Regions from separate parts of the Homo sapiens genome. Here region 2 is linked to region 1. A link means that fine-mapping ties the variant in region 1 to the expression of a gene that starts in the linked region. Tissue or cell type: testis. Region 1 holds a variant in brackets; the other region holds the start of a gene. All regions are shown on one strand. Distances are between the middles of the regions.

Region 1 (2,767 bases):
AAGAACCGAAGTCCATTGATGACGGGGAGAGAGACGGCAGGTTCGCTTTGGAGATACTCATGAGATATCCAAGAGTAGATGCCCAGAAAGTTTAGGCTTAAAGTCATATTTGAAGCCCAAAAGGAGAGGCCAAGCTTGCCTACAGAGTACGTAGGGTAAAGAGAAAAAATACAATAAAACCCCAAGGAAATGACATATTGTATGGAGAGAGAGAGAGAGAGAGAGAGAAAGAGAGAGAGAGAGAGGAGATCATGAGAAGTCTCCGAAGGAGCCCAAAAAGGAATGGCCAGAAAGGCAGCAAAGAAAGAACCCAGGGAGGCTGTGGTGTCTCGTAAGTCAAATTTTCAAGAGGTAGTTATGCCCTCATGCTTGCGGAAAAATAAAACACGTTAGCTGAAAATTGAAAAGTGTTATCTGTCTGCAAGCATTTAAGCAATCTTGGTGAGAGATGGAGGGCTCCAAAGTCAAACAGTAGTATGTTAAAGAGGGAATAGAGCTATGAGAAGTGGGTCCAGCAAGAGATGATAACTCTTTAGAAACTTACTGGTTGTGAGGACAAAAAGGTCCTTAGGGCTGTAGGAGATATCTTTCTTCATAAATGTGGATGATGTTTAAGTATGCTTAATTGTTGGAAGGAATAAGCAAAGAGAGATAAAGAGTGGGAGATGATAAAATCTAGAAGAGATCTGGGCATAGTGGTTCACACTTGTAATCCCAGCACTTTGGGAGGCCCAGACGGGTGGATCATCTGAGGATGGGAGTTCAAGACCAGCCTGGGCAACATGGTGAAACTTCGTTTCTACTAAAAACACAAAAATCAACTGGGTGCGGTGGTGCATTCCTGTAATCCCAGCTACTTGGGAGGCTGAGGCAGGACAATGGCTTGAACCCAGGAGGTAGACTTAGCAGTGAGCTGAGATCGCGCCACTGCACTCCAGCCTGGGTAGTGTGTGTGTGTGTGTGTGTGTGTGTGTGTGTGTGTGTGTGTGTATGAAGGAATAAATCCACCCAGCCATGGTGCTCAGGGGGCAGGAATGGGAAGACTGGAGCAGAGGGAAATTGAGAGGCCCTATCTCCAACACTAGGGTATGGGCTTTCTGCTGTGAGAGGGGAGAGAAGGAGGAGGATGAGGGAGGGAGGTGGGG[A/G]TAGGAGAACTACTTCCAACATGGGGACAGACTTCCCACCAAGAGGGGAGAGAAGGAGAAGGGTGAGGGAGGGAGGTGGCAGTAAGGGACTGGAAAACCATTAAGGAGTTTTGGAATAACCACTCAGAGGATTTACTGCCCTGGAGAGAAACCTTGCAGGAGTGCTCATCAGTGCAGAAGACTCATCAGCACCTAAAGAACTTGTGTTTGTGGTGCCTCCAGTTTGCAAGCTTTGCAAAGTTTGCGTGATGTTTCTCCAGTGGTCCTTGCCAACTCAGAGTGAAAATAGAGGTGGGGAATGAAGAGATTGCTTCAAGAATAAGAATTTGCCTGGGTGAGGCATAAACAAGCAAAGGAGGAGTGTCATAGAGGAGACTCAGTGGCATGAGAATGGTTGAAACAAAAGACCATGGAGATGAGATGGAGAAACAAAGGGAGAAAGCACTGCTCAGAAGGAAAATAGAATGCTCAGAAGATTCTATTCAGAATCTCAGAAGATGCTCAGAAGGCATCTGTATTAGTTCGTTTTCACACTGCTATAAAGAAATACCTAAGACTGAGTAATTTATAAAGGGAAGAGGTGATAGGGTTTGGCTGTGTTTCTACCCAAATCTCATCTTGAACTGTAGTTCCCATAATCCCCACGTGTCATGAGAGGGATCCAATGGGAGGTAATTGAATCATGGGGGCAGTTACCTCCATGCTGTTCTTGTGATAGTGGGTGAGTTCTCATGAGATCTGATGGTTTTATAACCATCTTCACTCTCTTCACTCTGCACTTCTCCTTGCTGCCACCATGTGAGGAAGGATATGTTTGCTTCCCCTTCTGCCATTATTGTAAGTTTCCTGAGGCCCCCCAAGCCCTGCAGAACTGTGAGTCAATTAAACCTCTTTCCTTTATAAATTTCCCAGTCTCAGGTATGTCCTTATAGCAGCGTGAGAACAGACTAATACAAGAGGCTTAATCGACTCACAGTTCCATATGGCTGAGGAGGCTTCAGGAAACTTACAATCAGGGCAGAAGGTGAAGGGGAAGCAAGGCACCTTCTTCACAAAGCAACAAGAGAGACAGCAAGCAAGTGAAGGGGGAAGAGCCCCCTATAAAACCATCCGATCTTGTGAGAGCTCCCTCACTATCATGAGAACAGCATGGGAGAAACCTCCCACATGATCCAATTACCTCCCTCCAGGTCCCTCCCTTGACATCTTGGGATGACAGGTCAAAATTTGGGTGGGAATACAAATGATATCAGCATCCAAGACCCAGAAGTCTCAGAAAAATAGAAGTAAATGTACAAAAATGAGGAAATCTTTAAGAGAGCTAGGATAAGACATTGGACCTGAGAATGAGATGGTTCTAGCATTTAAGATTTGAGAGAGTTGTAGTTTTGGGGAGAAGGTATGGTGCACCTAGGGGCGGAGATGGTCCAGCACCTGGCTGGCTGGCTAAAGTAGGGTGAGGTCACTGAGATGGGCAAGTGGATCAGTCATCTGTAACACAACAGTGATGGGCTACAGATCATCCTTGTTAAAGCTGAGTTCACCCTTCATAATGACAATATTTGGTGGTAGAGGAGGATGTTGACCCAGTTCTCATGATTCTTGGTGAATGGCAAAAGTGC
Region 2 (2,767 bases), 31 kb after region 1:
TTTGTAACACAAAGGATAAATACTTGAGGGAATGGATACCCCATTTTCTGTGACGTGATTATTACAAACTGCATGCCTATATCAAAATATCTCATGTACTCCATAAATAAACACACCTATTATGTACCCACAAAATTAAAAATTAAAAAAGGAATAAAAATAAAAATGTACAACAAATTTTTATAAAGCAAAGTTTTAAAATACCTTTTATAATAGTATGAAAAATATTAATAGGAATAAAATAAACAATGTGAGAGGCATATTCTGAAAACTACAAATTATTACTGAGATAAAATAGAAAAGACTTATATACATTGAGAGGTGTAACATGCTGAAATAACAATATATGCACATGGAAAATATAAACCTCATTTCTTAGCTCACATTATACATAAAAATTAACACTTCTAGAGGAAAATAGAAAAGAAAACCCTGTGATCTTGGCCTAAGTAAAAATTGCTTACATAAGACACAAAAAACACAAACCATAAAAGAAAAAATGAATAAATGACTTATCAAAATTAGAACTTTTAGTCTTTGAAAGACATGTCTAAGAAAATGAAAAGCCACAAACTATGAGAATATATTTGCTAGAAATATCTGAAAAAGGAGATACACCCAGAATATATAAGGAACTGGCACAACTCAAATATAAGAAGATAATCAATCTAAATGGGCAAAAGATTTGAACTGGCCTTTCACCAAAGAAAATATTATGAATGTCAATTAAGGACATGAACAAATGCTCAACATCATTAGTTTCTAAGGAAATGCAAATACTACCACAACAAGACACTACTGTACATACACAAGAATGGTAAAATTAGAAAGACTGACAATACCAAGTGTTGGTGAGGATGTGGAGCAATTGGAATGTTAAACATTACTGGCAGGAATACAGCCACTTTAAAAAATAGAAAGTTTCTTATAATGTAAATATCTATTTATCATATGGGCCAAAATCTCACTCCTAGATATTTGTCCAAGATAAGTGAGAACATATTAACACAAAAACTTGTACCTAAATGTCCATAGCAGCGTTATTCAGAATGGCCTTAAGCTGGAAACTACTTGCATGTCTAAAACTGGAGCATCGATAAATCATTTTATGGTATATACATACGGTGGAATACTACTCTGCAATATAAAGAAAAACACACAGCAAATCAAACACACTACAAAAATCAAACTAATCAAACACACAACAAAATGCCTAACTCTCAAAAACAGCATGCCAAGTAAAAGAAGCCAGATATAAGAAAGAAGCTGGTACATATTATATAATTCCACTTAGGCGAATTTCTAGAAAAAGAAAAACTATAGTGACTGAACTATCAATACTCACTAGGAGCTGTAGGAGATTGAAAGCAAGGGGCCAGGGACATGAAGAAACATTTTGGGGTGATGCATTCTAAATCCTGATTATGGTGGTGGTTCTGAGGTAGGAGGTGGGACTCGACTCCAAAGGTTGGGCTTGAACACTGGACCAAATTGAGAAATAGCTGAAACAGGGGTGGAGTGGAAGCAGCTTTCCTTGAGACATGCCTACCATTGTGCCATGTCAGTTTGCCATTGCCATGGCCACACTCCATGGCAACACCCTGCCCCTTTCCATGGCAATGACCCAGTGACCTGGAAGTTGCCACCCTTTTCCTAGAAATTTCTGCATAATCTGCCACTTAATTTGCATGTAATTAAAAGTGGGTATAAATATGTCTGCAGAGGTGCCTCTGAGCTGCATGTCCAGGCACACAGTCTGTAGGGTGGCCCTGCTTTGCAAGGAGCAGTCCCTCTGCTGCTGTGCATGGCCTTTTCAATAGAAGCTGCTGTCTAATACCACCGGCTCCCCCTTGAATTCTTTCCTGGGCAAAACCAAGAAACTTCCCAGGCTAAGCCCTAGTTTTGGGTCTTTCCTGTCCTGCATCATTTCCACAAAGGTACACATTTTCCAAAACTTAACAAAAGGTCAGTACACTTAAAGCAGATTGCCTATATTGCATGTAAATTATACTTCAATAAAAATAATTTTTAAACAGGGATGATGGACGTTAGGGAAGCCTTGGGACAAGAAAGTGGACTTGGGCCAAGGACCTCCTGGAACATCTGTCTAAACAGATGTTTTCTGTGAAGGGTAATGAGGATCCTCTTTAAAGAAAGCTGTCTGGGCAGAGAGGTCGGTTCATAGATGGCTTCAGGCAGTGAAATGAGTGCTGGGTTTTTCCAGATGAGCTGGGTTTAACCACAGCTCCTCTCTTAAAAAAGACATGAGGGTTGCCAAACTCCTTGTCTTCCCTGAGCCTTGTGTTTTGTGTCCCAGCCTGTATCATGTGTATTGAGCTCACCCTGCTCTGCTCAGACGGCTGTGCTCACCATATAAGTTGAGATGGGTTGAAAAAGCTCTACAAACTTCAGAATTCTGTGCACACGTGAAAGGAGACGCAAGGAAGCTAGGGTCCAAAGTGGCAGGATGAGTTTTAGGTTTTAAAATCGTGTGAGTGCACACAATTTTAAAATTGCTCTTTGCATTGGGCAGGAAGGGAAAAGAGAGGCTCCTTTCTTCTCACTGGGTATTTTGAACACTTATCTTGGGCTTCAGTGAGTTTGTTTAGATTTAAAGATATGTTGTCTGCGACCCTCCAGATCAAAGAGAACGAAGCTCCTACGTATGGAGGCCCTTACGGGCCAAACTAGATAATGTCATTATCCTATAAACAGGTGATAACGGCAGAGCCAGGCTCATCTCAAACTAATCCAGTTCTAATCCCTT

What was found. PIP is the estimated chance that this variant, and not a neighbour inherited with it, causes the effect.
Region 2: LINC02841 starts here. The variant in region 1 is the best candidate, but not a certain one, in a credible set for the expression of LINC02841 in testis (GTEx, PIP 0.87).

What each region holds. Positions count from the first base shown.
Region 1 is chr19:31,549,604-31,552,370 of GRCh38, reverse strand. All of the region lies in intron 2 of LINC02841 (long intergenic non-protein coding RNA 2841), which reads right to left. Among named protein-coding and RNA genes, the nearest start is that of LINC02841, 31 kb to the right of the region's middle. The variant A/G (reference allele first, on the strand shown) is at 1,146.
Region 2 is chr19:31,518,903-31,521,669 of GRCh38, reverse strand. LINC02841 (long intergenic non-protein coding RNA 2841) reads right to left here and starts at 1,483. Exons shown (of 3, transcript NR_184026.1): 1 at 1,346-1,483.